Homo sapiens: one gene and its partners. The protein of the gene in region 7 interacts with the protein of the main gene of each other region in a biochemical or structural test. Each region holds a gene or a part of one and is shown on either strand. Other genes may lie near its edges.

Region 1 (3,500 bases), on a different chromosome or scaffold from region 7:
TTTCTGAATCTTCCAACATTTCTGAAATAAAGTATGTATTACCTTCATTTATTTGCTTATTTATTTAATAATTAGAGGGGGAAGTTACACATACACACACACACACCCACACACACACACACATATATTGAGAGAGAGAGGGAAAAAGAATGGATGAATGAATGATGGCAAAATTCTAGGAGACAGCTCCAAATGGCCTCTGATCTAACTCCCTCCTCCCATGTTCACCATCCTTCTCCACTTCTGATTGCTGAGTGAAACCCACTCACTCTTCTCTCTAAATCCTCTACTAGAGAAAATGTTTTCTGGGCAGGACGTGGAGGCTCACACCTGTAATCCCAGCACTTTGGGAGGCCGAGTTGAGGCAAGGAGTTTGAGACCAGCCTGGGCAACCTAGCAAGACCCTGTCTCTACAAAAAATTTAGAAATTAGTTGGGCATGGTGGCACGCGCCTATAGTCCCAGCTACTTAGGAGGCTGAGGTGGGAGGATCGCTTGAGCCCAGGAGTTCAAGGCTGCAGTGAGCTCTGCTAGCACCACTGCAATCCAGCCTGGGTGAGAGAGTGAGACCCTGTCTCTAAAAATAAAAAAAAAAAAAACAAATAAAATAAAAAAACAGAAAACAAAAAAAATGTTTTCTTCCTTGGAAATGTCACATCTCCTCCTTGGACAGGTGCTAAAGGAACATACTACATCGCACTGACTTTCTTACCAGAGCAGCCACAGCGGCACAAACCTGATGGGCAGCCAATTTGTCTTGTGTTCAGTTTGCTTTTTTTCTTTGACTCTATTTCCCTCTTTCTTTTCTGCTTAAATAATCTTAACATCTGTACCATTTTTAGTAGCTGCTCTTTGGTGATAGGCAGGGCTCGACATCAGTAGAATAAGCAAAAAGAGCAAGGTGACACCTTTCATCTGGCATTCAAGGCCCTCATATATTGGTTCCATATATTGGAACCTCATATATTGGGACCTTCCCAACCCATCAATGACCTCATCTCAATTGTTCTTTTTTTTTTTTTTTTTTTTTCAAGACAGAGTCTTGCTCTGTCACTCAGGCTGGAGTGCAGTGGTGCGATCTTAGCTCACTGCAACCTCTACCTCCCAGGTTCAAGTAATTCTCCTGCCTCAGCCTCCTGAGTGGCTGGGATTACAGGTGTGCACCACCATGCCTGCTAATTTTTGTATTTTTAGTAGAGATGGGGTTTCCCCATGTTGGCCAGGCTGGTCTGGAACTCCTGGCCTCATGGGATCCACCTGCCTCAGCCTCACAAAGTGCTGGGATTACAGGTGTGAGCCAACGTACCCAGCCCTCAATTGTTCCCTAAAGAAAATAAATGTTCCTGCCTCTGCGCCTTTGGTATTCTCATTGCTAGGTAAGCCCTCCTCTATCTCTATTGTGTCACCTTCTCCATGCCTTCAAGACCCACCTTAAAATAAAAATACTACCTCCTCCAGGAAGCTAGCTAGAGGTGGGCTCTCCCTCCTTTGAGCTCTGACTGCACTTTTGGCCTCTCTGATGTCACTGTTCACTTTCTGTCTTATGTTAGTTATCTGGGTGCTACAAGTCAGCCTCTCCCACACACAGGGAGCTCTCTCAGAACAGGGAGTATGGCAGATTCCCCTCCATTGTCCTTGGCACCCATCATGGGGCTTGGCACACACTAAGCGCTAAGTGTTGACTGGCTGGCTGGTTGTTTGGTCGAGTGATAAATGAATGCATGAATAGAGGAAAAGGTACCTAAAATAATTAAATGAGTCCTCATGGGCATAAATAAGAGAGGGAAAGAAGGAGCGAGGAAAGGACAAGTGAATTACTGAATGAATGAATGAATGAATCAGAGTAAAGCCTTGTAAGAGTCAGGACTTTAATCTATCATGTTCACTGCTTGAACCCCAGGACCTAGAAACCTGGTACACAGTAGAAGCTCAGTACAATGGGCAAATGACGATTTGAGTGAATTAATAAGTGAATATCCTGGGAACATCCAGCTAGGGCAGAAAGTGACAGCATCACAAATTAATTTCCAAGGAACAGATGGGATCTCCTGCATCCTTCCCCTTACCCCCCACTTTCCCTTTCCAGGTGAAGGGCAGGAAAAGCTGACAGGGAAGTCACCTCTCAGGTTCTTGATGAAGTCATCTAGTTTCATCTTTCGTTCAGCTTTGACGCTGGGACTGTACATGTCGGTATTGAGGAGGATGATGGCAAAAGCAAGGATGAAGATGGTGTCTGGGTTCCGGAACTGGCGCACGAGGGCTGGGTTACAGACACAGTACCGCTGGCTGCAGGGCAGGAGGGGTCAAAGCCAGACTCAGGAACCAGCCATCTCTGCCTACCCACCATCCACCCAGTCTGGCACCAGCAACCCTTTCCTGCAAGAAATACTTTCTTGATCTCTGGGTCTGTCCTCTTCAGAGCTTCCCCTAGACCAGCATGTAAAAATCACAATCGCTACCTTTTACAGAGCTCTTCCAGGGGATTTATGTACGTTGTTTCACGTAATCCTATCATAATCCTGCAAGGTAGCTATTGGCAGTCCCATTTTACAGATGAAGTGACTAAGACTCAAAGTGGCGAGGTAACTTGCCCAAGGTAATAGAGCTGGTAAATGGTGAAGCCAGGATGAAAACCCAGTTATTTCTGACTGCAAAGCAAATCCTTCCCCCATTGTGGGAAACAAGTTCTCAGCAACTCCTGTTTCTCTTCTAAATACCCTAAAGTGGCAGAGCCAGGATTTAGACCCCAGTCTATCTGATCTCCAAAGCATTTATAGTACAGTAAAATGGTTAAGGGCATGGATGGATCATGGACTCAGACACATACGAGTTCAAATCCTGTTTCTACCACTTATTCACTGTATGAGCCTGGGCAAGTTACTTAACCTCTCTAAACTTCTGATTTCTCATCTGTAAAATGGGAATAATAACAGAAGTGCCTACTTTATGGGGTGGTTGTGATTATTCGGTGAAATAATCATGTAAAGTGCTCAGCTCTGCACCTGATACCTAGTAAGTGCTCCGTGAATGTTAGCTGTTATTGCTGATGTTGTTGTCACTTATCGAATGCCCATGTCCCAGAGGCTGAGCTAGATACTTTATATGCACTACCTCTGATCCTCACAATTGCCTTGCAAGATAGGATTTATCATCTCTGTTTTATGGTGAAGAAAGTATGAGGCTCAGAGAAGTGACTTATAAACACATACTACGTCGATGCCCACAGGAGGGAGGGGCAGCTTCGCGAGTGGGAGGTAGGCACACCTGAAGGCTTCGATGAGTCGCTCCACTTTCTGGGCCTCACCCTGAACCCGGATATGGGACTGGAACTTCCGGAGCGCATCATCCAGATCCATGGAGGAGAAGTCCATCTCATCCACCACACAGCTAAGGAGCAAAGAAGGAGGTGTGGCGCTTTCAATTCCTCTGCAGAAAACCTCTGACCCACCTGGACCTGCTCAAATGGACCAACACCCCCACTGATAGACTCTCAAATTCAGG
Region 2 (3,500 bases), on a different chromosome or scaffold from region 7:
AAGTTTCCCTTCCTTTGCCCTGCCCTCCCTTCCGCATCTCTTGGCGTCCTCCCCATGGCGGCAATCCTCCATGTGCTCACCTGAACCTCACAGGATGAGCAGTCCATGAAACCTCCAGTCATGTGCCCAACTGCCCAGGCCCCAGCAGGCCAGACCGGCCCAGTCCTGGGTACCTGTGTCTCCTGGAGGGTCTGTACAACTGAGGCTCCAGCCCTGAGCAGCCCTCAGTGGAATGGCCAGATTTGGTACCCCCTATTCCAGCTCTTTCTCTTGATGACCACTCAGGTTTTGCTTTCCTGGGCTCAGTAGGCTACCTCCCTGCTCTTGGTCATCAGGAGGGGACACTCAGACCATTTCCCTGACTGCCTTGGGCCCTGTGCCCTGGGCCTATGGGGGCTTGACTAGCAGGACCACAGGTCCTTCAGTGTCTCCCGGCCTCCCATCCTCTACTTTCTCCTGCCTTGTCCAAGCCTGGCCAGCACAGCCCACCTGTGTGTCTTGTGGGGTCATCAGCCCTAGGAGTAGCAGAGCCAAACCCAAGGGGGCTGAAGGGAACTGCCCAAGTAGCTCAAGGGGTCAGACGCCAGTCAGTGGCCAGAGAGGGTGCCCTCTGTTGTTATCCCTCCTCCTGTCCCGATATCCCTCCTGCTGCTCCCTGCCCCATGGCTGGCCAGAGTAAAATACCTCTCCATTCAGAGCTGGGCAGCTCCTCCAGCCTGCTCCCCCAGGGAACTATGGGGAAGCAGTTGGATTCCCTGGGGTTGCCCCGGCTTACCTGCCAGATCTGGCCGCAGGCATCGGGGTTTCTCGCAGGCCCTTGGGACTGGTGACAGGCAGACAGTGAGACAGAGCAGAGCTGCCTACCACCAGCTCTTTGTTGACATATCTCATGCTTCTTCATTGAACACTCCAGTCTTGCCAAACCTGTTCCTTGAGATGACTGGGCAGGAGCAGGGCAAGGTAGCCTAGAGTTTCTGCTGTTGACCTGGAGAGGGCGAGAGCTTTTTGCTGGCAACACGTGGACTTGCAGGGGCAGGGAAGCTGGTAGAGTGTCTGGCTGGGGTAGGTCTGAATCTGGCTGATTGGATTATTCCCCAGAGCACCAATACCAGGCCACACTGGAGCAGCCTCTTGACTCCAGAGTCTTCCTCCTAGTGGCTACATCTCTTCCATTTCGAGGGGCCGCATCCTGGGCAAAGTGGGAGGCTCAGGGGTGGGAACCTCAGTCCAAGTCCATAGTTAAAATCAGGCTGCCAGAGCCAGGCATGAGAGCCAAGAGCGTGGGCAGCCTGGTCAGCCTCTTGGCTGTGTGGTTCAGCAAGCATGAGTGTGTGTGCAGCAGAACACAGAGCTGTGTGCATGTGTGTGTAGAGCTGTGCTTCCAGAGAAGAATCAGCCACCCCCCAGGGGGTCTGGAAAGTTGCTTGTGTGAGGAGGTGGATTTGCAGAGAAGGCCTTCTTGATGCACCGAAGCTGAGTGACGGGTTCCTGCATGGTTCTGGGGGCTGGAAGAATGGTTTGTGAGCACACCTGGAAAGACTTTGCCTGTGGGTGACCCAGAGGAAGCATGAGGAGCTTCCCCTGGTTGCTGCGGGTCCTGTGCCGAGGCAGGGCACAGTGGGGGTCTGGTGATGGCAGCATGCACCTGTTTCTGTGCTCTCTCCCCACAGGGCCCTCCATTCAATACCCAGTCCAGGTGGCCCATCCCAACCTCAGCATTCAGGGCAGGCTCTGCAGGTGCTGGTGGCTCCTTCTCCTGCACGTGCTATTTCTTCCTCCTTCCTTGGGCAGGCAGGACCTCCTGTCCTTTTTTACCTGGCTTTCTTCTCTGGCTTCACCTTATGATGGCGCCAGTACCCCTCAGGCTGGTGGAGGCTACAGGCCCCATGACCATGGTACCTGCTTGTCTGCCGGTGCCCTTTCGATCTGCAGCTACCCTCTTTTCCTTTCTCACCAACCATGTGTGGCCAAGTGCCTTAGGCTGCTGAAGTGCCAGATGAACACATCCTAGGAACTGACTTCCGGGGTTTTCGGGTTCCTACCTCATGGGAACTGCTAGGAGAATTTGTGGGGCCCTCTTCCCCATTCTGACAAAAGCAAACCTGCACTGCGCTCAGACAGTACTTAGAGGTGCACAGTACACAGACCCCCATCACAAGGGTGTGTGGGGCCCCAGAGGCACGCATCCACCGCTCCGCTATGTGCCTGCTCTAGGGCTCTGTGTGGAGGCCCCAGCCCCTCCCTGTCCCCTCCAGCCCTGAACACTCTGTCAGCCGCTCCTCTCAGTCCTTACCCTCTAGTCAAGTTCCTGGCACCCTAGGTTCTTGAGCTTAATGCTAGGACACTCCCACTGAGGGCCAGAGAGGGAAAGGGGCTTGTATGAAGTCACCTGCTCGTCAGGGCAGGGCCTGTGTCTGCGCCCACTGGGTATGTTTGCTGAGGACCTGGCCTCCCTCCTGAGGGCCTTCCCTGATGCTGCCCCTGCCCTGCAGGCAACTTGTACTTAAACCAACACTCCCATGAAGGTGCCTGGGCCACACCTTTCAGCACATTCTGGTTCCTCTGGTGAATACTCTGCTTCCCTGCTCAGCCCTCTGGGCTTCCTCCTTATTTATTTTTTCTTTCTTTTTTAAAAATTGAGGTATGAATTTACATACAGTAAAATGCATAGATCTTGAATGTGCATGCAGTTCAGTGAGTTTTGATAAATAATACACATCCATGTAACCAACATGCAGATCAAGGTAGAGAACATTTCAAATGACCAAGAAAAGATTTTCCTTTTTGTAATGGCTTTGTTGTTTTGTAAAGGTGCACATACTGAAGCGTTCACAGAAGTTCAAAGAAAAGAGTAAAACTTTGTTGAAACCTCGGCACCCAGAGAAGTATCTGAGGTTAATGGTTTGACAGATGTCATGTCCTTCCAGAAAGAGCTCTGTGCAGATCTCACACACACCTGGCTTCCTGGATAGTTGACGCCACCTGCACAGGGAGGCATGTAGCTGAGGAGCTGGGATGGACGGCTTTGAGTCAGACCTGGCTTCCAGTCCCAGCTCCACCATTTTTCTAGCCAGAGTTAAATACCTTGACATGAGGCCTTGACATTCAGTTTTCTCATCTGCGAACAGGGTGTAATGATAGGTCCTATCTCTGGAGGTTGGGGAGCAGGATCAGTAAGGCCCACAGGTACCCTGTGCCCAGCTTAGCGCCTGGCTCAGAGAAGTGGGAACAGCTGGTAGCTATTGCTCAGAGAAGCAGCCTTCTGTCTTAAGGATGTGACATAATGTATCTGACTCCCGAATGAAATGTCTAGAGGTCCTTCCAGCCGCAGCTGGAGTGGACACTCTTGCCCTCATCGGTCTTCCTAGAGCCAGGTTTAAGGTTTCCAGGGCCCTTCCCTCCTTGCCCCTTTGCCCCTGCCCAGGCATTCCTTACCTGAGCTTCTCTTCCTGTCCTTGGGAAGGCCCAGTCTGTGATGGGCTTGGGTGGGCACTGCCCCT
Region 3 (3,500 bases), on a different chromosome or scaffold from region 7:
CCTACTGCACCATCCACAAGGGGACAAATTCCAAAGATGAACCCACAAAAGGTCAGGAGCAAATCCAAAGAGAGGCTGAATCTCTTTAAGAAGACAGACTTAGAGACTCAAGTTTTCAGCTTCTTTCTTCTGCCCTCAGACACATCCCCGCAGCACCAGGGAGGATGCTGAGGTCAGAGTTGAGTTTCAAGGACAGGAAGAGCTATGCAGACAAGCCCATGAGAGAGGTTAGCAGACAAGTGGAGAGGCAGGGATGTCTCAGAGACGCCCATCCCCAGAAGGATGATAGGAAAAGGCCACTGATAGAACAGTGTCTGCAAGGGGTGTTCATGAAGCCAGGCTGCAAGGGAAGAAGGAGACAATGATTGCCAAGACAGTGAAACTGCAGGTATAGACACTGGATCCAGAAGTGTGCTGTTTGAAAATAATCCACAGTATTTTGAGGAGGTTGTAGCATTGAAGGAGGGTTTATTCATGAGAGTCCCTCCATTCTCCCTCCCAGGCATGTTTGGTAAACAAAAGAGATGTGGGAGAGAGTAGAGAAGCTAGATCAGGGGTGTTTGGGCTGGAAGAGGTGAGCAAGTGCAGGGAAAGAACAATCCTGGCATCTGCCTTCTCTGGAAGGCCAGAGGGAAGCAGAGGTTGGTGAGGCCCTGGAGAGAATGAGGAAAACAGGGGAGGCATTTGCTGAGACCTGGGGTCACTTCGTGAAGCTGGGGCCTGGAGGAAAGGGCTGCGGTACTGCTGCCTGCCAGGGGAAGCAAACCCGGCACCTGGCACCAGTGGAGGCAGCCAGGAGGGAAAGGAAGGACTCCTGAGTTGGGGTCAGAGGCTTTGGCTGGAATCCTAGCAGTGCAGAGAACTTCCTGCTGGGCCAGATGATTAGAAATGTTGAAGCCTCCATTTGCTCATGTATAAAATTGATGCAGTCGCTACTTCACAGGGTTGTTCTTAGGAGGAATCGAAAGAGGTACTAAGGTGTGTTTGGAAGGCCCTCCATGACCGCATCTGCTGTATAGGGGGTCCTTTCGAACAGTGTGTCCAGAAATGCATAAACCTCTCACCAAAGTCAGTGAGAGCCCAGTGGAATGGAGAAGGCAGGAGTTTTTAGCAGACTTGCCTGAAGCTTTCTTTCAGCTGTGGATGAAAAGTTTTGGACTACTCTGAGCAGTTGGGTCTCCCTGTTTGCACCTTGACAAATCCTTCAAGATTTCTGCCTTTTAATCCATTGGCTTGTTGCAGTGCTGCGTCTAAATTTAATGTCCCTCTCTTTTGCAAAGATCCAGTTACCAGGTGCAAGGCAGGAAGAGGCTGGACAGTCTCCTCTGTCCTCCATGGTTTGGAAGGGCATCATGCACTCACACTCGGTAACACCTGCATTTGAGGAAGCTAAGGCCCAGAAAAACAGAGAACTTGCCCCATTAGACAACCAGAACTAGAGTCACAAAACACAGTTGCTTGATCTGGGGAACTCTTGTCTTTCAATAGCAGTGGTGTTGGCCAAGATGCAGGTGGCTGAGGAAGAATTAAAAATCTGCAATCCCCCTTGGTTTTATTAATGGGTCTTTGATTATAGTTGAAAAGATGAAAAAACAGTCTCACTTATTAGTGAAGCGGGAAAGAAAAGGAGCATTTGACTTACTAAACACTAAGTAGATATGTGCCAAATTAAATGAAATTGGGGAAAATGTGAATAATTTTTTTTTTTTTTGAGACAGGGTCTCACTCTGTCACCCAGGCTGCAGTGGCATGACCACGGCTCACAGCAGCCTTGACCTCCCCGGCTCCAGTGATCCTTCCACCTCAGCCTCCCAAGTAGCTGGGAAGCTGGGACTACAGACACCACCGCACCTGGCTAATTTATTATTTTTTAAAAATTTTTTGTAGAGATGGGGTTTTACCATGTTGCCCAGGCTGGTATCAAACTCCTGGGCTCAAGCGATCCACCCACCTCAGCCTCCCAAAGTGCTGGGATTATAGGCATTGAAGAATGTTTTTTAAGGAAATTAAAGTATAGAATTATCTGGAAAATTTTCTGAAATTATTCCTTATTTTCCAACCGGATGGTCTATGTCTAGATTTGGACCTATGCATCGGTTGCATATAAAAGGATAGATCTTTTTATGGTATCTAGAAATTTGACAATCTTGATCTCCTATTATCCATACTTTAGAAATAGAGAAAAGATGGAATTGGAAAAGAATACATTTCCCATGGGTTCTAGCGGGGAGTGTTTGAAGCCAGGTAGGTCATCTGATTCAGTCTGATTGTCTGAGAGCTAAAGAGTTCTGCCTTCTATTTACAAATGTGTTCAAGAAGACACTGGGAGCATTTACAATTTGAAAACTTAATAGTTGAAGAGGCCTTTTGTGGTCTGATAAGGCGGCTGAGCCGAGAGATGGTTTGTTAAGACACTAAGCATGCGGAGAAGACACATTTGTCTTTTAAGCCTCTCCAGCTCCAGGAAGAGGCCTACCCCCGGCCGTGGCTTCTCTCCAATGCCAGTAGTGTGTTCACCCCACACTCTTGATGGGGCCAGCAAACAGTCTCCATTCTGAAAGTTCTGGCTGCTCCATGCATGCATTCCCTACCAGAATGCGTTCTGAGTGAATAATGAGTGGTCTATGAACTTCCAGAAAATCAGAAACTTAAGATTCTCAACTCTCTTTATGAAGCCATTGAATGAAACCAGATAGCATTGAACACCTGGTTGACAAAGTTATTCTTGGATTATATGTTTTTATATACAGTGTTTCTGGGGCTCATCAAGCCCTCTAGGTAGGAGGCCTGAAGAGGTTTTGGAGAAGCAGCATTGGGGGAACCGACTTCACAGCACAGAGGATTAATTTTGCACACACAATTGTTGCGAGCTCTGAATGAAATAATAGCAAGGAGATGGGGGAAGTTTTGTTGTCTTTTAAGTCTAAGAAGCAGCCTGAAATGCCTAGATATCCACAGGAGGATTTAAAAAATCACAAATTCTTAAGGATCTGCAAGTCCTTGAAAGGGCATTATCCAATCTCTTGCCTTCAGGGAGGAATAAACTTAGCTCATTCCAGTTAAGGATCTATGGTTTTAACAGCTTCCTGAGGAAGGGGCGTCCATGGCATATTTGGCCCTTAACACAGTGATGCCCCAGACTGGTTCTTTGAGGTGTTTTAGCAGGAGTCGAAATGGATTTCAGAGGGGTTACTCTTGGTCTCTTTTTTTTTTTTTTTTTTTTTGAGACGGAGTCTTGCTCTGTCGCCCTGCCTGGAGTGCAGTGGCGCGATCTTGGCTCACTGCAACCTCTGCCTCCCAGGTTCAAGTGATTCTCCTCCCTCAGCCTCCTGAGTAGCTGGGACTACAGGTGCGTGCCACCACACCCAGCTAATTTTTGTATTTTTAGTAGAGACGTGGTTTCACCATGTTGGCCAGGATGGTCTTGATCTCTTGATCTTGTGATCCGCCTGCCTTGGCCTCCCGAGGTGCTGAGATTACAGGCGTGAGCCGCTGTGCCC
Region 4 (3,500 bases), on a different chromosome or scaffold from region 7:
GGAGTTCGAGACCAGCCTGGCCAACATGGTGAAACCCTGTCTCTACTAAAAATACAACAATTAACCAAGCGTGGTGGCGGGTGCCTGTAATCCCAGCTACTCGGGAGGCTGAGGCAGGAGAATTGCTTGAACCTGAGAGGTGGAGGTTGCAGTGAGCCAAGATTGCACCACTGCACTGCAGCCTGGGCAACGAGTGAGACTCCATCTCAAAAGAAAAAAAAACTATTAATGAATAATTAATAGTTACTAATACCTAATAGGTGTTAATCACTTAATAGTTATTAAGTAATAACTATTAATGTTGAAAGGGTAGATTTGGGAATTCCTAGCCAAATTAATTTAAACTTATGCTATTAACTCATAACATGAGCTCTTCTTAGACTATAGAGAACCACCTCCCTCCCAAAATACAAAAAAAGCCTTTATAAGTACCCAAGTCTGAATCAGCACTGTCCTGTAGACAATAATGCAAGCCACATACATAATTTTAAATTTTCTTGTAGCCACATTTTTAAAAATTTTTAAATAGATGAATTTAATTTAATAATATATCTTATTTAATACAATATATCCAAATATTATCATTTAACGTGATATTTTTAAAATAGTTATTTTACACTCTGTTTCCTATGTCTTTGAAATCCACTTGAAATAACACACCCCCCCAATATACTACTATATAATGATAATATTTTTTTTTTTGAGGTGGAGTCTTGCTCTGTCGCCCAGACTGGAGTACAGTGGCGTGATCTCAGCTCACTGCAACCTCTGCCTCCCATGTTCAAGCGATTCTCCTGCCTCAGCCTCCCAAGTAACTGCAATTACAGGCGCACCCACTAATTTTTGTATTTTTAGTAGAGACGGGGTTTCAGTATGTTGGCCATGCTGGTCTCAAACTCCTGACCTCAGGTGATCCACCCACCCTGGCCTTCCAAAGTGCTGGGATTACAGGCATGAGCCACTGCACCTGGCCTGGGTTTTTTAATTTAAATTAAACTTACTTTAATTCAAAATTCAGTTCCTCAGTCACACTGGCCACATTTCATGTGCTCAGTACATACTACATGTAAGTAGTGGCCACTGTATTGGACAGATCAAGTCTGGATCCCCCATGCATTTTACCATGGCACACATTTAGAAAAAGCAAAGGTAGATGACAAAGGCCTTCACTTCTCTTACCTTTGAGCAGCTGTTCCTTCAACCACTTTACATACATAAACCCCAGAACTCACATCAGGGAAATCTGGATAATGCATTTTCAATTCTTCACTAAGGCTAAGAGAAGTGAGAAGATTAGGAAACAATGAATTAGTCTCCTGAGCCCTGGTAAAAGCCTGAAATTCTTAGTAGGTACTCTGTTCTGCTCAAGGTTCACAAGGGCCGAGGAAGATTCCATCAAGCTAATCACAGTCATTCTCCTCTCAGTTCGGGCTGAGCCTCTATCCCAAAGCCTAGAACCACTGGACATTATAAAATACAGCCACAATGAAATAAACTATGTATAGTTAGTGCTGATGCAGGCAGAGGCAGATACATACCCTGAGACAGATAGGGCCTATGGTCACAAGAGTACCTGGCTGTGGTCCAAGTGGCTCAGCTTTTCTGTTAAGACTGTGCAGCTATGGTTTTTGCCTCTGAAAAACAACCCAGACATATTCAAACACATGCTTACGGCACAGTGAGGGACAGCATTTGCAGACCCAGATATTTCTTATTTGAAAACGCCTTTCCTGGAAAGGAAAGTTATGATGTGTTACAACAAAACCTCTTTCCTGTTAGCGCAGCTTAAAAGACACCCATGTCCCAGGATCTCTTTGCCATCACAGCTGTCCTTTCAGGTTACCTGGATGAAACACAGGCTTCAGAGAACCTTTGTCATTAGCACTTACACTCCTCCCACCCACCTCCCACCTCCAGCCCCTGGGTTTCATTTCCACATTAGCTCAATCCAAATACTTCTGGGTACAACTCATGCTTGGTTTGTGCCTAGTCCCCCAATATTGCTGCTCAAATCACCATTATAGGAGCTGAGTACAAATGAGTGACCCAGTAGTCTACAGGATTCAAATGGCTGTCTCCGGGCCAGGCATGGTGGTTCATGCCTGTAATCCCAGCACTTTGGGAGGCCGAGGCAAGCGGATCACTGGAGGTCAGGAGTTCAAGACCAGCCTGGCCAACATAGTGAAACCCCGTCTCTACTGAAAATACGAAAATGAGCTGGGCGTGGCAGTGGGTGCCTGTAGTCCCAGCTACTCGGAAGGCTGAGGCAGGAGAATCGCTTGAACCCAGGAGGCAGAGGTTGCAGTAAACCAAGATCACGCCACTGCACTCCAACCTGGATGACGAGCAAAATTCTGTCTCAAAAACAAAAACAAAAAAATTGCTGTCACCACAAAAGATTGAGTGTTCCTGAAAAGCACAAGACGAAACCAAAAAAAAAAAAATCCCAACTTGCTTTACCTTTCATCTGGTGCTCATGGTATTCTGCCAAGAACTGCCTAACTCGATCTGAAGGAATTGCAAAGGAGATTCCATCAGTCACCCTCAATGAATTGACGCCAATCACATCACCATCCTGGCAAGGGAGGGGACATCATTCAGTCATGAAGTTTTGCAAACTGATGAGTGCAAGACCAGAACAAGCAGAAGAAGGAGTGAAGCTAGTTACTTAGGGTCAGAAAACAGGGCCGAGAGGAACTTTGTACTTCAAAAGAGAGCAACGGATGTTCCTTTATAGGGCAAATAGTGTGATGGGACAGCAAAGGGTAACTGCACATGCGCAGAAGTTACCTTCTTTTCATGGCCAAAGGATCAAGGATGCTGAGGACTTTTTAAAATCTTGAGCTCATGGCTGGGCAGAGTGGCTCACGCCTGTAATCCCAGCACTTTGGGAGGCCGAGGCGGGCGGATCACGAGGTCAGGAGATCGAGACCATCCTGGCTAACATGGTGAAACCCCATCTCTACTAAAAATATAAAAAATTAGCCGGGCCTGGTGGCGGGTGCCTGTAGTCCCAGCTACTCGGGAGGCTGAGGCAGGAGAATGGCGTGAACCCGGGAGGCGGAGCTTGCAGTGAGCCGAGATCGCGCCACTGCACTCCGGCCTGGGCGACCTAGCGAGACTCCGTCTCAAAAAAAAAAAAAAAAAAAAAAAAAAAAAAAAAACTTAAGCTCATTTTTTTCCTTTAGTAAGTTACATTGACTTTAAAAGTGAGCCACAGTTTGTATTTTGACAAAGGTAGAAGGACAAGGAGCATTTGCCTTTTTATTATTTAAAAGTAAAAATAAACATGGAAAAGGTAAAAAGCTGTGGGATTGTCAGTAACACTGCACTGAGAATTAGCAAAATTGACCTTAGGGAACAAAGCTCTGCTAAGCTAAAGGTATGAGGTAGAAAATATTTTCCTCTTTATGTACCTCATCTTCCTTTAGCCTTTTAGGTAATGGGAAAGGATAAAAAAGAGATTTCTTTTTTTTTTTCTTTTCTTTTTGAGACGGAGT
Region 5 (2,465 bases), on a different chromosome or scaffold from region 7:
GGCCGGGTGCAGTGGCTCACACCTGTAATCCCAGCACTTTGGGAGGCCGAGGCTGGAGTTCCAGACCAGCCTGACCAACATGGAGAAACCCTGTCTGTACTAAAAATACAAAATCAGCCAGGCATGGTGGTGCACGCCTGTAATCCTAGCTACTCAGGAGGCTGAGACAGGAGAATCGTTTGAACCTGGGAGGCGGAGGTTGTGGTGAGCCGAGATCACGCCATCGCACTCCAGCCTGGGCAACAAAAGCGAAACTCCATCTCAAAAAAAAAAAAAAAAAAGCCTGGGTGCAGTGGCTCATGCCTGTAATCCCAGCACTTTGGGAGGCCAAGGCGGGTGGATTACAAGGTCAGGAGTTCAAGACCAGCCTGACCAATGGTGAAACCCCGTCTCTACTAAAAATACAAAAATTAGCCGGGCATGGTGGCAGGTGCCTGTAATCCCAACTACTCAGGAGGCTGAGGCAGGAGAATCGCTTGAACCTGGGAGGTGGAGGTTGCAGTGAGCCAAGATTGCGCCATTGCACTCCAGCCTAGGCGACAGAGCAAGACTGCGTCTCAAAAAAAAAAAAAAAAAAAAAATGCTGCAAGTTACTCAGTGCCACGTGGGTCTCAGCTACCCCAGGTCTGAGTCCCAGAAACCAGTCTGACCAGGGAAGCCGTGTTTGTTGACGTCCTGGTAGAAAACAGGCTCCCAGTGTGTGTCTGCTCTGTGCTGGCATCCCCTCCGGAGACCCTTCCCAGGCCTGCCCCCCATGTCCGACGCACCTGGGCCCCCTGATGAGCCGAGATTCTCCCACGATCCCTCGGGCTCTGGGACTCATCTGCCTGCACGGGCTCCGAGGACCGGGCCAGGGCTGGAGCCGGGGGCTCATCATCCACATCCGTGTAGGGCCCCCCCTCGCCGTCTGTGTAGCCCTCGCCATCCGTGTACGCGCCGCCCTCGCCGTCCGTCTCGTAGTCGCTGTTAACGCGGCTGTCGCAGCTGAGGTCAGCGGAGCTGTCGGCCAGGCCGTGGTGAGGGAGGTCTAGGTTGTCCTCCAAGGAGCCATCCAGCTGTGGGGTGGGTGTGGATGCTGCGGCTGGCCCTGGCCAGGACCCCAGCTGCCACCCACGACATCCCCCCACCTTCAAACTCTGGTCCCAAATCAAGGCGAGGAGCCTGGAGCCTGGAGCCTCAGTGGAGGCTTCTCTGTTGACTCCAGGATGGGTTGTATCCATTGACCCTTCACCTGAGAGGCTCAGCCCCCAAATCCAAGCTGAGCCCCAAACCTTGACTCCAGCCCCAAGAGAAGACTCCATTCTCTCTCTCTTTTTTATGAGAAGGAGTCTCTGTTGCCAGGCTGGAGTGCTGTGGCGCAATCTCTGCTCACTGCAACCTCTGCCTCCCGGGTTCAAGTGATTCTCCTGCCTCAGCCTCCTGAGTAGCTGGGACCATGGGCGTGAGCTCCCGTGCCCCACTGACTCCATTCTCAAAACAGCTCCTCCAGGCTGGGCGCGGTGGCTCAGGCCTGTAATCCCAGCACTTTGGGAAGCTGAGGCAGGTGGATCGCCTGAGGTCAGGAGTTTGAGCCCAGCCTGGCCAACATGGTGAAACCTCGTCTCTGCTAAAAATACAAAAATTAGCTGGGCCTGGTAGCGCTCGCCTGTAGTCCCAGCTACTCGGGAGGCTGAGGCAGGAGAATCACTTGAACCCGGGAGGCGGAGGTTGCAGCAAGCTGAGATCACACCACTGTACTCCAGCCTGGGTGACATGAGACTCCATCTCAAATCAAACAACAAAAAACAGCTCCTCCAATCTCATCTCACCCAAGTTCCAGTCCAACACCCTTGTCTCAGGTCCCATCTTGACTCTGGCCACAGTCCTGATCCCTGACCAAGCCCTAACTCCCGACAGAGGCCCCAAACCCCAGCTGGGCCTGCACAGCGTCTGTGGGGCCTCCCTGCCCGACCCACCCACACCGCGGCAGTACCTGATCTTCCGCCGTCCAGATGGGCCGCGTCTGCTGCTCTCGAATGATGGCCTTGAGCTCCTGGTACCAGGTGTCACTCGTGCCATTCAGAGGGATGGTGGCTGCAGGGAGGGGACGTCAGTGTGTGCAGGAGACTCAGGCTGGGGCCCACCCGCCTACCCTGGGACACCCACCCCCCAACCTGTGAAGAGGTGGCTGCTGTGTTTTCGCAGCTTCTGGGCTTGTGCGTAGAGGCGACGGGTGCTGCGGCGGGAGGCAGGCGCCAGCCACTGGCGCAGTGCCTTGAGGGCCGGCCGGCTCTCGGGGATGAAGAAGACCACAATGGGGTAGTACTGCACATAGTTGAGGCGCTCGATGGCGGAGGGGGTCACATCCAGGAGCGCATGCTTGTCCTGGGCCAGGCCGGCGGACGTTGGGGTGAGGGGGATTGCAGCAGGGTAAACAGAGAGAGAAAGATAGAAAGATGAAGAGTCTGAGGTCAGAGTGGACCCCA
Region 6 (3,500 bases), on a different chromosome or scaffold from region 7:
CTCTCCAGTAGCTGGGATTACAGGCACACACCACCATACCCAGCTAATTTTTGTACTTTTGATAGACACGGGGTTTCACCACATTGGCCAGGCTGGTCTCAAACTCCTGGCCTCAAGTGATCCGTCCGCCCCAGCCTCCCAAAGTGCTGGGATTACAGGCATGAACCACCATGCCCAGCCAATTTAATGTTATTTAGTATAACAAAGAAAAAAAAGAAATCTAAATGCCCAACAAAAGGTGAATAAGTAAATTATGATATAGCCATACTTTAGGAATAATGTAGAAAGGACCTTAAAGTATATTTTGGGCCAGGCGCGGTGGCTCACACCTGTAATCTCAACACTGAGAGGCCGAGACAGGTGGTCAGGAGTTCAGGACCAGCCTGGCCAAGATGGTGAAACCCCATCTCTACTAAAAATACAAAAAAATTAGCCAGGCGTAGTGGTGGGCACCTGTAATCCCAGCTACTTGGGAGGCTGAGGCAGAGAATTGCTGGAGCCCAGGAAGTGGAGGTTGCAGTGAGCTGAGATTGTGCCACTGCACTCCAACCTGGGTGACAGAGCGAGATTCCACCTCAAAAAAAAAAAAAAAGTATATTTTGTAGGAAATATAGACGTATCTCACACATTAATTCATAAAGACTAGAATGAAACACCAGTAATAAGTGTTTATCTCTAGATAATAGAATTACATGTGATTTTATTTTCTCCATAGTCCTTTGCATTTTCCTATTTTTCTACATGGAGCATGTATCACTTTTTTTAATAAAACAAAAAGCTTATATCTTTAAAAAGTTACTCTCTTCTCGTCTATGCTCCTAAAACATTTTGTACTTTGTTGACAGCCCCTGGCACACGCTGCTCTGTACTCTACCTAGTCAATACGTGTCTGCAGTTTCTTGAGTTCTGCTTGTATCCTTCCCCAGCTCCCAGCACTACACTTTGCACAGAGGAGGTGCTCGATGAACTGCACCAAAGCACTGCTGGGGTGAGAAGATGGTCACAGAAGGCAGAGGCCTCCAGACTCTTAACAGAACCCACCAACAACCATCCCTTGTACGTGAAGGGTCAGGTCAGACCCATAACAGAAAAGGACCTACTTCCTTCTACTACTTTGCTAAGAAACCTTTAGTTTTTTCTAGATATCCTGTTAATTATTAGAATTTTCTGGCCAGGTGCAGTGCAGCAGCTTAGGCTTATAATCGCAGCATTTTGGAAGGCCAAGATGGGAGAATCACTTGAGCCCAGGAGTTCAAGACCAGCCTGGGCAACATAGAAAGATCCCATCTCTATGCCTCAGGGATATCAATAACAAAACATAAAAGAAGAAATACAACATAAAAAAGAATATAACAAATTTTAAAAAGAGAGAGGCTCTGATCTCTATAAAAATAAAAGAAAAAAAGAATTTTCCTTGAGTTGCTTTTGTGTCGTTTGAATTAATTAATTTTATTTATTTATTTATTTATTTATTTATTTATTTATTTTGAGACAGAGTTTTTGCTCTCGTCACCCAGGGTGGAAAGCAATGGCATGATCTCAGCTCACTGGAATCTCTGCCTTCTGGGTTCAAGCAATTCTCCTGCCTCAGCCTCCCAAGTAGCTAGAATTATAGGCACCCACCACCATGCCCGGCTAATTTTTGTATTTTTGGTAGAAACAGGGTTTCACCATGTTGGCCAGGCTGGTCTTGAACTCCTGACCTCAGGTGATCCACCCGCCTCAGCCTCCCAAAGTGCTGGGATTATAGGCGTAAGCCACTGCACCCGGCCGATTTATTTATTTTTAACTTTAATTTTAGGCTCAGGGGTACATATGCAGGTTTGTTATATAGATGAATTACATGTCGTCGGGGTTTGGTGTAAAGATTATTTCATTACCCTGCTAATAAGCAAAGTACCCAAAAGGTAGTTTTTCTATCCTCACCCTCCTCCCATCCTCTAAACTCAAGTAGGCCCTGGTGTCTGTTGTTCATTTAGGGAAAAAAAAAAAAAAGAAGAAAGAGGAGGAGGGGGAAAAGGAGGGAAAACAGTCAACCAGTCTCTCTCTGGTTTTCTCTAAGAATTCATCCAAACTTCCCTCTGGGCATATGAGACTCACAAGACCCCCCAGTTGCCAGGGAGCTGGAGCCCTGCAATAGGAAGGATGAGTCAGGGCCTCCTCACCCCACCAGCTACAGCATACCCAGTTTAACTTCATGTTTTCCCCCTAATCTCTAGCACAGTGCTCAGAACATAGTAAACACCAATGTTTGTTGGATTAACAAGTGAATTTCACACTGCAATACAATTAGAACCTGGACCTAGAGCTTCCACTCTGGTTTTCCCCTTCCTCCCCACCACTCACCCTGTAGAGATTGAAGTAACTCCCATAAGGGTTGGCCTCCTCGTAAAGATCAAGAGGCTCCATGGGCCAGGGAAGTTCCACAGGGAAGGGCCTTTCCGGGGTTTGGGGTAGAACAGTTTAGAAATGTGTGAGCAAGAGGAAGGCTCTGTGAGGCCAACAACAGGCTGGGCTATGTCTAAATAGCCATCCTTGGCTGCACTTTCAGTGATGTCGATCAGCTGGCTCGGGTCCTCTGAGGATGGCAGAAAGTGGTAATGGCAGGGTAAGACAGGCTCGCTTTCACTCCCTGGCTCCCTCCCGCCCTCTCTGCAGAATTTCCGGTTCTACCTGCTCAGCTCCCCCGCCACCCCATCTTCCCAGTGCAAGGGAAGGTCGAGCCTTCCAGCGCAGGACTTACTTCAGGGGCCCAGCACCCACTTCCTGCCAGCCAGCTGCTTCCTCCTGTTCCGCCCCTACATTGTGAAACAAATGACGCAGCCGGACTTTAGACAGAAACCCTGCTTATCAGGGAGTCCAGGCAGATGAACTCTGGGTTCTCAATGCCAGGAAAACCCTAGTGTGTATCCACTCTCACAGTATGTGTTCACTCATACTGCTTTCCACAACCGTCACACAATAGTGAAACCTCATCCTCAATTATGTTGGACGCAAGGTCATCCAGGTCTTTCCTGAATCTCTGAAACAGAAACTGGTTTGAGTTTAGAGATCTCCAGGGTCTCTAGTCAAACCTAACAGATGTGATAAACAAGTCTCATTATTATCACATAAAATGTGCATGGCATTTAAATCTATTTTTGGGTGTGGTGGAAACGTGTGTTGCCCATTTATGTGTCCACAGAACAAGTGCAAATTGAACTCAGCTGACTTGGAGGGGGGTGGGATGTATCCTAACAGCCAAGGCCACAATCCCTAGAAACCAATATGGGCCAGGTGTAGTGACTCATACCTGTCATTCAGCATTTTGAAAGGCCAAGGCAAAAGGATCCCTTAAAGCCAAGAATTCAAGACCAGCCTGTACAACAGATGAGACCCTGTCTGTACTAAAAAAATAAAAAATTAGCCAGGTATGGCTCACCACTCACACTTGCCTATAGCCTCAGCTATTCAGGAGGCTAAGACTGGAGGATTGCTTGAACCCAGGAGGTCAAGGCTGC
Region 7 (3,500 bases):
TGCCCTGGGCCGTGGCCCACCTTCCACGTGCTCCTCGGTGGGTGTGACCCGAAGCCGCTTGAAGTGTTCATCTGTCTCGGGGTCCACGACCAGCAGCCGGGCCTCGTCCTCCCGTGCCTTGATGCTGGCCACCACCTCAGCATGGCGCAGTCCCTCCACATTCTGCCCGTTCACCTGCCGCCACCAGCATGTATCAGCCCCGCCATGGGCCCAGACAGCCCCCAACGCCGCGTGGCCAGGTGTGGCATCAAATATTCATCACAGCCACCGCCCACCGAGGCAGCAGGAGGCGCACCAGCTCAGGTTCCCAGCGTCTCCCTCCTCCCTGCAAGGACCCAGGGCCCCAGTGTGGACAGGTGCGGGGCACTCGGCACCCCGCAGCCCTGGTGGGCCGGTACCTCAATGAGCCGGTCCTGGGCGCGGAGGCCAGAGCGGGCGGCAGGTGAGCCCGGGTCCACAGAGCGGATGTACTGGCCGGGCCGGGACTTGTCACTATGCAGGTTGAACCCATAGCCCTGAGGTCCCTTTCGCAGGTGGCAGAGCCGAGGGCGCAGCTCCCTCAGGGGCCCACTGACATCCTGCAGGCCCAACGGACAGGGTCAGTCTCTTGCTCCAGCCTCCCGCCTCCAGAGGCCACTCCCCGGTGGTGCCGCCACTGCCCAAACTCGGTACCGTGCCCCCCACGGGCAGGCCCAGGTCTCAGTGGCAAACACTCCGGGCACCCAGGCTGCCTGTGACAGAGCTTTAGCTGTGGGAACTTGGGCAAAGCCTGTTTTCAAACCCAGAAGCCTCCCCGACGGGCCCAGCCGCCTTCCCGGGTTGCTGGGAGAATTCCTTTGGCTCGAGGCCAGCGTGGCGCACAGGCAGGGTGGGAGGAAGCACCAGGTGGGATGAACTGTCGCCGTTGGCCTCCTGGGGCGGTTGTCCCTGAGGGCTCTGCCTGTGCGTCCCCCTGCCCCGGGCTCTCCTCCAGAGCGTGGGGCAGGCGCTCCTAGGCCAGCAGTTTTGTTTTCTCTCCAGAGGCCTCCGTGGGGCTGGCTGCGGTGGCGGCTCTGTTTGCTTTCACATTCCAGGAAAATGAGCCGCCCCACCCCCGTGGGCCCAGCAAGCAGGGGCTGGGGCAGGAGCTTAGTGTGGACAGGGCACAGAGGGCCTCCTGGTGCCCGGAAGGACCCCCCGCTACCATCCCAGGCCCTGCCCCATGTTACCTCTGGCATCCTGCGGTAGGGCTCTGGGCCAGGGGACCATGCAGGCAAGGCCAGGCCCAATGACCACCTCCCAGCCAGGGGGTGGGCCAGGGTGCGGCGGCGGTGGCCAGCGGCTGCCCGTGCTCAGTTAAACATGGCGGTGGCCGGAGCAGGCAGGAGGCAGCTCAGGTTTCCAGGGAGCGCCAAGCTTGAGGGCGTGCGCAGGGGAGACTGTGCAGGCGGGCTGGGGGCTGCCAGGGCCCTTCCCTCACCTCCTACCTCCCTGTGTGTCCCTGAGGGACCACAGGCCAGGCCAGGCCAGGGCTGGGGCGGCATGGCAAGGGGGCGCTCAGACCTCAGGAGGGCAGGTCTCCAGGCCTCAGACACCCCCAACCCCTCCAGCCACCCACCTTCAAGCTCGCTCCAAACCCCAATGGACCAGAAACGGCCATGTCAGCGGGGGGGACCGCCCCGCCAAGGGAGCAAGGGGGTCCTTCTCCACACAGCTAGTGCTCTGTCCCCTGGGCTCAGGACCTGCCCTTGGTCTGGAACACCCTTCTCCTGTCCAGCCTGCCAGATGCCTCATCTGAAGCCTCCTGCCCACCCTCTGAACCCTCTCTGCATGGCCACCACCCAGCCCGTCACACCAGAAACTCCAGGGACAAGCCTGTGGCTCCCTGGCCCCACAGGGGCTCAGCTGGGCCACATGGGCTGAATTAGAGGGTGCAAGACCCCCAAAATCTCCAGGGCCCCACCACATAGACTCACTCCTCCCCCAGACACACCTGGTGGCACAGGCGTGGGGCTTCAAGGCTGACCCTGACACCTGCCCACCAAAGTGCCCCTCAGGGATGCAGTCACAGCACGGCCCCCAGGCTGGCCTGGGACGCAGGGAAGGCGTGGGGACAGGAGTCCAGTTCGGGAGGGGAAGTGGAGCACAGCCCCCAGGCTGGCCTGGGACGGAGGGAAGGCGTGGGGACAGGAGCCCAGTTCGGGAGGGGAGGTGGAGCACGGCCCCCAGGCTGGCCTGGGACGGAGGGAAGGCGTGGGGACAGGAGTCCAGTTCGGGAGGGGAGGTGGAGCACGGCCCCCAGGCTGGCCTGGGACGGAGGGAAGGCGTGGGGACAGGAGCCCAGTTCGGGAGGGGAGGTGGAGCACGGCCCCCAGGCTGGCCTGGGACGGAGGGAAGGCGTGGGGACAGGAGTCCAGTTCGGGAGGGGAGGTGGAGCACGGCCCCCAGGCTGGCCTGGGACGGAGGGAAGGCGTGGGGACAGGAGTCCAGTTCGGGAGGGGAGGTGGAGCACGGCCCCCAGGCTGGCCTGGGACGGAGGGAAGGCGTGGGGACAGGAGTCCAGTTCGGGAGGGGAGGTGGAGCACGGCCCCCAGGCTGGCCTGGGACGCAGGGAAGGCGTGGGGACAGGAGCCCAATTCAGTGGAGGAGGTGGGAGCGTGATATGGGCCCAGTCCGCAAAGACACATCACACAGCCACAGACACAAGACGTCCACACACACCTGCAAACACGCACAGCAGCCCACACATGCGGCCAGCCCCACAGTGCTGGCCCGGCAGCCCTTCCCACGCCTGCACAGCGGCCTGCGGGGCAGGGTTTCTCAGGGCACCAGACAGGAAGCAGGATCTGGTGGGTGTCTGGGGCCCTGAGGCCAGGCCAAGGACCCCTCAGTGTTCTCAGGGTCATTCTGGCCACCCCTCTGCCTCTGTCCAGAAGCAGCCGTCTTTCACTCTACAAGGCAAGAAGTTCTGCCTATCAAACCTAAACCCCTTCATTGTCAGCAGGGTCCCAGTGGCGCCAGGCACAGCACTAAAACCTCAGGTGGAGGGGCTGCAATGGAGGGGCCAGGGTGGGCTGCTGGCAGCACATGGGCTCGTGGGGAAGGGGGGCCCAGAGAGCCGAGGAGCTCGGGCGGCGTTCATAGCTCACATTCCTCCTCCCTGCCCTGGCTCAGCACACACTTCCTGCCGCCTCCCGCCAGGCCCTCGGGCTCCCACGGGCTCCAGGCTCCCTCCCTGCCGGCGGCCAGCACAGAGCTGGACCATCCCTGGTCCCCCAGCCATGCCTGTGTCCGGACAAAGAGGCTGGCATGGGGGTACCCTGGGCACCCCCCCAGATGGTGACGCACCAGCCCTGGCAGAGAAAGGCCTTCATTGTTGCTCAGCGACCAGCCTGCTTACATCAAGGTCCCGGAGTCCCCTCCTTCCACCCCGGGAGGCTGAGCGGCTGCCGGTTCCTCCTAGCCCTCCCTTCCTCCCACCCCACCTGACCTGTACCAGCCTCTGGGGTGGGCTCCGTGGA

The links.
Region 1: the proteins of NHERF2 (region 7) and IQSEC2 interact in a test that uses a peptide from one of them, tested with the Homo sapiens proteins (one large-scale study listed by IntAct).
Region 2: the proteins of NHERF2 (region 7) and TBC1D10A form a complex in vitro, tested with the Homo sapiens proteins (2 studies listed by IntAct, with this or other methods).
Region 3: the proteins of NHERF2 (region 7) and PDZD2 interact in a test that uses a peptide from one of them, tested with the Homo sapiens proteins (one large-scale study listed by IntAct).
Region 4: the proteins of NHERF2 (region 7) and HTRA4 interact in a test that uses a peptide from one of them, tested with the Homo sapiens proteins (one large-scale study listed by IntAct).
Region 5: the proteins of NHERF2 (region 7) and TJP3 interact in a test that uses a peptide from one of them, tested with the Homo sapiens proteins (one large-scale study listed by IntAct).
Region 6: the proteins of NHERF2 (region 7) and F11R interact in a test that uses a peptide from one of them, tested with the Homo sapiens proteins (one large-scale study listed by IntAct).

What each region holds. Positions count from the first base shown.
Region 1 is NC_000023.11:53,244,851-53,248,350, forward strand, and holds part of IQSEC2 (IQ motif and SEC7 domain-containing protein 2), read right to left. Parts: intron 3,387-3,500; coding exon 3,264-3,386; intron 2,286-3,263; coding exon 2,119-2,285; intron 1-2,118. UniProt on the Homo sapiens protein: Is a guanine nucleotide exchange factor for the ARF GTP-binding proteins.
Region 2 is NC_000022.11:30,295,942-30,299,441, reverse strand, and holds part of TBC1D10A (TBC1 domain family member 10A), read left to right. Parts: intron 1-3,500.
Region 3 is NC_000005.10:31,642,131-31,645,630, forward strand, and holds part of PDZD2 (PDZ domain-containing protein 2), read left to right. Parts: intron 1-3,500.
Region 4 is NC_000008.11:38,980,728-38,984,227, reverse strand, and holds part of HTRA4 (serine protease HTRA4 precursor), read right to left. Parts: intron 2,576-3,500; coding exon 2,461-2,575; intron 1,731-2,460; coding exon 1,673-1,730; intron 1,635-1,672; coding exon of another isoform or gene 1,606-1,634; exon of another isoform or gene 1,283-1,605; intron 1,276-1,282; coding exon 1,180-1,275; intron 1-1,179. UniProt on the Homo sapiens protein: Serine protease.
Region 5 is NC_000019.10:3,746,384-3,748,848, reverse strand, and holds part of TJP3 (tight junction protein ZO-3), read right to left. Parts: intron 2,365-2,465; coding exon 2,154-2,364; intron 2,074-2,153; coding exon 1,973-2,073; intron 1,056-1,972; coding exon 768-1,055; intron 1-767. UniProt on the Homo sapiens protein: TJP1, TJP2, and TJP3 are closely related scaffolding proteins that link tight junction (TJ) transmembrane proteins such as claudins, junctional adhesion molecules, and occludin to the actin cytoskeleton.
Region 6 is NC_000001.11:161,011,153-161,014,652, forward strand, and holds part of F11R (junctional adhesion molecule A isoform 1 precursor), read right to left. Parts: intron 1-3,500. UniProt on the Homo sapiens protein: Seems to play a role in epithelial tight junction formation. Appears early in primordial forms of cell junctions and recruits PARD3.
Region 7 is NC_000016.10:2,033,402-2,036,901, reverse strand, and holds part of NHERF2 (Na(+)/H(+) exchange regulatory cofactor NHE-RF2), read right to left. Parts: coding exon of another isoform or gene 3,470-3,500; intron 3,314-3,469; exon of another isoform or gene 1,218-3,313; coding exon of another isoform or gene 1,209-1,217; intron 579-1,208; coding exon 399-578; intron 175-398; coding exon 21-174; intron 1-20.